3 separate regions of the Homo sapiens genome follow, and regions 2 and 3 are each linked to region 1. The links come from fine-mapping of genetic effects on gene expression. A gene starts in region 1. Each other region holds a variant in brackets. All regions are shown on one strand. Distances are between the middles of the regions. Region 1 holds the start of EYA1 (EYA transcriptional coactivator and phosphatase 1). Region 2 overlaps EYA1 (EYA transcriptional coactivator and phosphatase 1). Region 3 has its middle 220 kb from the start of EYA1.

The links. PIP is the estimated chance that this variant, and not a neighbour inherited with it, causes the effect.
Region 2: its variant is fine-mapped to the expression of EYA1 in anterior cingulate cortex (GTEx, PIP above 0.99). The same link has a PIP of 0.9 or more in cerebral cortex.
Region 3: its variant is fine-mapped to the expression of EYA1 in subcutaneous fat (TwinsUK, PIP 0.95).

The regions. Positions count from the first base shown.
Region 1 is chr8:71,360,850-71,363,616 of GRCh38, reverse strand. EYA1 (EYA transcriptional coactivator and phosphatase 1) reads left to right here and starts at 1,548. Exons shown (of 18, transcript NM_000503.6): 1 at 1,548-1,970. RefSeq lists enhancers at 1,758-1,867, 1,620-2,141.
Region 2 is chr8:71,260,153-71,262,919 of GRCh38, reverse strand. All of the region lies in intron 11 of EYA1 (EYA transcriptional coactivator and phosphatase 1), which reads left to right. Among named protein-coding and RNA genes, the nearest start is that of EYA1, 100 kb to the left of the region's middle. The variant A/G (reference allele first, on the strand shown) is at 1,166.
Region 3 is chr8:71,578,204-71,580,970 of GRCh38, reverse strand. No RefSeq gene overlaps it. Among named protein-coding and RNA genes, the nearest start is that of EYA1, 220 kb to the right of the region's middle. The variant G/AAG (reference allele first, on the strand shown) is at 1,754.

The DNA of each region.
Region 1 (2,767 bases):
CTGGTCTGAGAAAGTGCAGTAGGTGGTAACATAATTCTATTTCTGCTGCATATATGAACAGATCCAATAGCAATCAACTGTGTTTTGACCTGGCTTCCCAAATATGGTAGATGACTAGCCCATGATTCCTTGCTGGTACTATACAAAATGAAATCCTAGGTGAGTTTGCAGTTTAAACTGTCGTTTATGTTTGACAAAGTGTTCTTTTCTGAGGAATTCAGATTGGCATACTTTCGGTGGTTGGGGGGAAGTCTGTAATAAATTTTGGTCATTAGCAGCTTTTTATTTTTTGTTTGCATCGGAATGGTGCTTTCATTTACATATTAGCAATATAAAGTTATGATTGTGTCTATGTGTTTTATTAGTTGACGATCTGGAAATGTATTATAAAGTCATGCAAAAAGTTATTGTGATTTTTAAAATTTTTTTCACATCTATCAAGCGCCTAAAAAATGAGGACGCTTTTTTTTTCCTTAAATAAAAGACCTAATCAGCAGAATAGTATTCTATGGGTGATGACAAAACAGTTTTAAGAAAAATCCGATGGGCTTAAAGATTTTATTTTAGAGCACAAAATTGGTTACAACGAGTGACTAGTATCAAAATAAACATTTGTATTTGAATGTTGGCACAGGTCTGGCAAATTGAGATACAATCATTAGTCACATAAACGATGCCTTCTTTGAATATTTGAAATCAACATAATGGTTAAGTCTTATCACCAAAGTCATGTATCTGTATAAAACATATCTTAACTGAAGCTCAGCTCTTTAGGTGAGTGTTATAGACTGTCATGCATAGATTCCGAGGTCAGTAAGAATTTTTTTTTAAAAGAATAAGCTGTAAAGAAAGAGTTCTAGATAACATGAATCTTTTCCAAAAACCATTTAAAAATATTAACACTGAAACATTATCTGGTTCATAGCCAAGGAATTGTTCACAGAAGATTTGCCATTCTAGAAATCATTTCGGATTCATCCTTCAGGCTTTCATTATTAAACTGATAAAAGCTTGCACGTTTGCTTTTTCATTTTCTACTTAAAGGGAAATGGCCATTCTAGTTTTTTATTTCCCCCAGACCTGTTTCAGTAGTAGGTACGTTAGTTAGGAAATAAATTATGAAAAGTAGTGGATTCCCTAAGTTTCAGGGCCTGAAAAAAGTTTAGGAAAAGTGTAAAAGATAACGTGTAACTACTCCCCAAAGATCTTAATTGGTAACTACTGTTGCAAGAGGACGCGTGTGTGTTGACCACGTCTCAGAGAAGTTATTCTCACACAGCTGTTTATTCAGATAGCGTGGGGCGCGTTCATTTACATAATTTTTTTTTTTTTAAACAGCAAGGTTGAGTCAGACAGAGCAGTGCTCCTTTCAATTGTTGCATTTAAACCAATAAGGTTAGGACAAGAGAATAGCTGTGGTTTGCGTTGCAAAAACCAAAAAAAAAAAAAAAAAAAAAAAAAGAAAGCCCCGAGGCTCCATGGGCAGACCTACAAGGCTGCGCAAACAAATCGAGGGATGAGATTCTGCTGTTTCTTTGTCTAGGGTTCTCAGATGCTATCTGCCGCTGCTGTTTGGTGGGGAAGGAGCGCTGGGCGCAAAGCTGTTACCAAACAGAACGGTGGGAGCTGATGGCTCCGAGTTTGGGGCGAGGTAGAAACTCTCCAGTGCCACTTCCGACTTTAAGCCTTCCTGTTGCCGTCCACTGTGGCGGGTTTCTTCCTGGGGAACACGTTTTCGCTCAGTCGCTCGGCAGCCCGAGCCTGCGGCAGCGGCCAGGCGCCTGCCCCCTGCGCCGAGCTTTCCCCTGCAGAGGCGCTCCACTCCCAGAAGCGCCGCGGCTGCACCAGAGCGCCTGAGAGCCCCCGCGCGTACCCATCCAGGAGCAAAACTATGTCAGGAATGGAGGTTTGCTAACCCAGAAAATTCGAAGGAACACATTAAACTGGTGGATGCAGCAGATGTAAGCGCTGTAAGTACAAGCTGACTGTTTGAAAAATTGTAGTGACTGACAACAGCTGTCCTGTGGGCAAAGCCCAAGCTAACAGGAGCGCTTTTATTATTGTTTTGATTTGTTTTCAAAGAAAAACATTATGGCATGGGGAAAATTATGACACTTTGTACCTAGTACTTTATGAGCCACAGGGTTTCATCCTAGAAGTAGAATTCCCAACCTCCAAATTATGAGCGATCAGGATCATTAAGAAATAATTACAAATTAATTGTTAACAATTACTTTTGTTATGCTCTAGATAAATGTAATGCAGGACCATATTCTTGCAGGGAGATGACTTCATATCTCTTTTCTGAATTGCTGCACAAATCTCAAATATATTTGTGTGGTATTGAATAAAGCGGTACATATATGTTCATTGCAATACATAAGTAACTTTTACACACTTTGATATGAAAAAAATGAAGCATTTAACATTTGAAAGGACAACAGATAACAACATTAAATTGATAGCACTTTTTAAGGAAGAAAATATTTTTGCTTTAATAAATTTCCCAAACGTTATATTAAACAAACTTATCTTCAGAAGGTGATATAACAAACATTTACCCAATTAATATATTTTTCTCTTATTGACACTTTGTAAGGCTTGAGTGGACCTTGAAGTTTAAAACAAGATCTGTAAACTTTTGAATTACCATTTAAAATATTTGCCATTCAAAATCAGTATATGAATTGTTAATGACTCATGGGTTTATATTTATTGGGAGGAGGTTTTGAACACATTAGAGCATAGCATTTGCAAGAATTCAATA
Region 2 (2,767 bases), 100 kb after region 1:
AAAAAGGATGAAATAATATATGTGTCTATATATGAAACCTCTTTATGCTGTAGAGTGACATAGAATCTAAACTCTCAAAACAAACAGAAGCACATTTTTTCAAATGCCAGCCAAACAGGCATGCTTCATCTCTCTTCTGGCCATATCTTGAAGGTTTCTCTCTTTTCCTTTAACAGGCAGCCCCTCTGCCTCACTACCAGTAGTATACAGCGGAAATGTACATTCTTGCTGTTTAATGGAACACAGCCTTACTGTTCTTGTTCATGAATATAAAAGGGAATGCAGTGAATGAACAGGAATCATCACAGCTCCTTAACCACTGCACTGGCCTGCCACCTGCAACTTTGGACCTCCCTTGCTCTGTGGCCTTGGAAAAAGCAGCCTATAAAATGGGAGCAATTACAGGGCTGTTAGGGGAACAATGTGAACCACCTAGAAAAATACTCATAAGTACTTCATGAACAAGAGCTATTATTTATTGCTTACTTTGGGGGTTCAGAGGAGGAAGCAGGAAACCATGCAGACTTTGTTATTCCAGGCAGCAAAGAGGGAGTGGGAAACAGAGAATTACAAGTGGCAGAAATCATAAGCAAAAAGGGTAAATAGTGATAAAGTATATTTAGGGGATTAGACTTGAAGAAGAATAGTAGCAGAAAATGTGTTGGATCAGTAATAAAAAGACTGCATCTTTGTTCAACTTTTATGGTTTACACTGCTATCTCACACTTATTATCCAATGAACTCCTTCTTTTTGCCAATAAGAAAAGTGTAGCTCAGAAAAATTAAATTATCTGTCCAAAAGGCAGATCCATCAACTGGCAACACCAGTCTTGTAATTGACCCAGGCTTAGAGAGAGCATTGAGTGCCAGGATTTCGTTCTGTGGGCATGGGAATGCCATGAATTAGGGACATGATGGAAGAACATGATGGCAATGGAGGGACATGCTGGAAGTGTACATTTGGAAGACCGATTTAATAGCAAGGAAAACTATTGTGCAGTCCTCTGGTAGAAAATAATAAAGGCCTAAAAAGTGGCTGGAACACTCTGTAGGAAGGAGGGAGGTAGGAGAGTCATTACAAATGAAATCCTGATAGGTCTTTCGACTGGATTTAGCTGTTTAGCCTTTCCCTTAGCACCCCATGGGCCCCTTGGTGTTGAAGCCA[A/G]TTTGGCCAGGTCCATGCTGGCTTTATTCTTCTTCCTCCCTCTTTGTACCACTTCTTGGCAGTTGGCCCATGTTTGAGATTCACTGGGTTTTCTCCACAGTCAAAATTAGTCTTTGGAATGTTGAAGTTCTTTCTCTTATTCTCTACTTGAGTATTATTTTCATGGTGTTGAAAGGGAGTCTCTTAAGTAAGGAGAAAATTAACACAATCGAGTGTCACGTATCTAATCAGTAAAAATGACCTGATTAGCCCCACCACAAGTTTGAGGGTTTTGGGGGTGTTTTTCCAGATCATTCAGGCAGTAGTTTAACCATGGTTTATTTTTTATGTGTATACAGTCTCTCTTGGTAATCTGTATTATTTCTTAATTGGCAAGAGAATCACATCCAACTCCCAAAATCTGATATTTCATATCTAAGTAGCCCAGTGATAGGGCCTTAAACCTTGAAAAAAGTTAATATTTTATTGATGATATTGCTCCCTTTAGACAGGAGAAAACACAATAATGGAACCTTTGGGTCTCGTAAGTTGTACAGATCATTTGGATAACACTTTTGGTTATGTGTTTATGTGTTTTTTATTTTTTATTTTTTAAAAAAACAATGTTTCAGCATAGTTTTTCCTTTCAAGATAGGAAGCTAATTTTCAAAGCTTAACCTTAATCCTTTCCTTGTGGGCAGCCAGCATGGGGTCTTAAAAATAAACCACTCATGTATTCAGAGTGCTCATTCCTGTTTTTCAGCTTATTTTCCCCCAAAACAAAAGATCTTGGATGGGGAGAATTTTTAAATGACATTCAGGTCCTGTTTGTGGCTGTAATATTAGCATTCTAAGTAAGGAATTGTTTAAGGTGCACTGAATGAGTATTTTTCTTTCTTTTGATTGATACTGCCCAAAGATTTGTCCTTGATTTGAGCATACTTAACAAGATTTTCACATGGACGAATAAATCTCATAAACCTGCTCACATTGTTAGCAACACACCTCACTGGGCTACCACAACTCCCAGTAATTGCTTGCCAGGGAGGCTTAGCTGCCCATGTAGGATTAGTACAGAGAGAGTTTAGGAACCTTATTTTCTTTTATTCCAGAAATTCAAAATGTAGGTAGCATATCCTGAGGAACTAGTCATGCTTTCTGAAATAGTTGCACTGTCTTCTGATAACTCCTGTCTCAAGATTAATTATTTAAATAGCACTTTTTTAAAGATAATATATTCTTTGTGATTCAAAGTAGAATAGCAATTGCTAGGAGTTTGTGTAGAGTATCATCTCATGGATATAAGTAGGTACATATTCAGAGAGGAGAGATACAAAAGACATACATTATGTATTTAATGTACTTATAAATTGAAAATAATAGGATAAGAATTAAAAGGCAAAATAATTCCCTTTCCTTTTTATTTTTAGTAAGAACACCATAAGTACTTTGTAGAGACCAAGTCAGAATGCTGAAGCTACTTAAAATTGGAACAATGACTTAGCCATTAAAATAGTTCTTAAATGTTGACTTAAAGCATTTAAATTAGACAATTTATATTATGTGTTTACTTATTTTGTTTTACTGTTAAATTTTTTGTTTTCAATTTAGAAAAATAGCATG
Region 3 (2,767 bases), 220 kb before region 1:
TTTTTTTGAGACCAAGTCTCATTCTGTAGCCCAGGCTGGAGCATAACGGCATAATCTCAACTCACTGCAACCTCTGCCTCCTGGGTTCAAGTGATTCTCCTGCCTCAGCATCCTGAGTAGCTGGGATTACAGGCATGCACCACCACGCCCACCTAATTTTTGTATTTTTAGTAGAGATGGAGTTTCACCATGTTGGTCAGGCTGGTCTCAAACTCTTGACCTCGTATTCTGCCTGCTTTGGTCTCCCAAAGTGCTGGGATTACAGGCATGAGCCACAGCCCTCGGCCACTTGTATGTATTTTGTTTAGAATTTTTGCATCTATCCTCATGAGTAATATCAGCCTAAATTATTATTTTCCTATAATAGCTTTGAATATTAGGATTATGCTGGTCTTATAAAAATAAGTTAAGGAGTGTTCTCTTTTTTTCAATTCTCTGAAAAAGTTTGTTCTTCCTTTTATGTTTAGTAGAGTTTTCCAGAGATCCAACTAGTCCCAGAGAGTTTTGTATTTTGTTATTTTTAAATTTTAAATTTTAAATTTTTATTTATTTATTTTTTTGAGACAGAGTCTTGCTCTGTTGCCAAGGCTGGAGTACAGTGGTGCAATCAGAGCTCATTGCAGCCTCCACTTACCAGGCTCAAGCGGCAATTCTCTGCCTCAACCTCTCAAGTAGCTGCAGCCACAGGTGTGTGCACCATTATGTCTGGCTAATTTTTGTAGTTTTTGTAGAGATGAGGTTTTGCCATGTTGCCCAGGTTGAGCTCAAACTCCTGGGCTCAAGCAAACCACCCATCTTGGCCTCGCAAAGTGCTGGGATTACAGGCATGAGCCATTCTGTCTGGCCAGGTTTTTTATTTTGTTTGTTTGTTTCTTTAGCTGTTGTTGAAATTTCAAGAAGACAGAATTAATTTATCCAATAACTGTGGGGTTTTTGTTTTTGTTTTTGTTTTTTTTTAAAAAAACACAGCTGTTTCAGTAACGTTATGTCTTCATTATTTGCTTCTCTCTCTCTCTTTTTTTTTTATTGAGTTGGAATTCTTTTTCTAACTACCAGAGATAAAAGGTTAACTCATTAACTTTCAACCTTGGTTCTTGTCTTATATACGCATTTAAGGATATCAATTTTCCTATCAGTGTGAAAGTATTGTATATTCATTACTATTCTGTTCAAAATATTTTCTAATTTCCTTTATGATTTGTTTTTACACGTGGGTTATTTAGTGATGTATTATCTATTTTCTAAACATAGGAGAATTTTCTAGATATTGTTTTATTACTAATTTCTATTAGTAATAAAAATTGTATTTTTAATTGTATTGTGGTCATGAACTTATACAGTATGCCTTCTATGGACTTCTTGCTTCATGGCTTAATTTCTGCTGTATTGAGACAACCTTATTGGACACTTAAAAATTTGTAATTATATATTCCTATTAAGAAGATCGGCTGGGCACGGTGGCTCATGCCTGTAATCCCAGCACTTTGGGAGGCCGAGGCGGATGGATCATTTGAGGTCAGGAGATTGAGACCAGCCTGACCAGTATGGTGAAACCCTGTCTCTAGTAAAAATACAAAAAAAAAATTAGCCAAGTGTGGTGGTGCATGCCTGTAGTCCCAGCTACTCAAAAGACTGAGGCAGGAGAATCGCTTGAACCTGGGAGGCAGAGGGTGCAGTGAGCCAAGATCGTCCCACTGCACTCCAGCCTTGGTGACAGAGCGAGACTGTCTCAAAAAAAAAAAAAAAAAAAAAA[G/AAG]AATATCAAGAAATGATTCATCTCTAGTAATATTTTCCTTACATTCTATGCTTTTAATTTGTTTAATATTAATATAGCTTCACCAGTTGTTTTTAGCTCAACAGGGCATATATTTTTTCCATTATTTAATTTTCAAACTTTCTGTAAGCTTGTGTAATAGTTACTACTTTTGAAAACAGCACATGGCTGCGCAAAGTGGCTCATGCCTGTAATCCCAGCACTTTGGGAGGCCAAGGCAGGCAAATCACTTCAGGCCAGGAGTTTGAGACCAGCCTGGGCAACATGGCGAAACCTTATCTCTACTGAAAATACAAAAATTAGCCTGGTGTGGTGGTGCACTCCTGTAATCCCAGCTACTCATTGGGCTAAGGCACAAAAATTGCTTGAACTCAGAAGGCAGAGGTTGCAATGAGCTGAGATCGTGCCACTGCACTACAGCCTGGGTGAGAGAGCAAGACTGTATCTCAAAAAAGAGAAGAAAAATGAAAACAGCACATAATGAGTTTTTGTTTAATTCAGTATTAATGTCTTTTGATTGAATAATTTAGTAAATTTAATTTTAATGTAGTTACTAATGTATTGTATTAAATCTACCATTTTAGTATGTCTTTCTATTTGTTTTGCCTGTTCTTTGTTACTTTTTCACTCTATTCTTGCCTTATTTTAGGCTAATTTTTTAAATTCCATTTTCAGCTTTATTGGTTTGGAAATTAAAAGTTTTCTTGATATTTTATTCTCATACTATAAATTATAATATGTCCTTTTGACTCATCAAAATCTATTGTTAGACTTATACTTTCAGCCAAAATTGTAACAGGAACCAAACTTCACAATTTTGTAATAGGGACCAGTTTTATCCTCTCACCTGACACAACTGACAAAATATATGAAAAAATAGTTATAAAGATATTGGACATGTAAAAGCTAAGGACAGTGATCCCTGATGGGCAAGAAACCAGTGAGGTAAGCTCTATAATTGCCCCAGATTACTAAGTAGAAAAAGTTTCCAGGCTC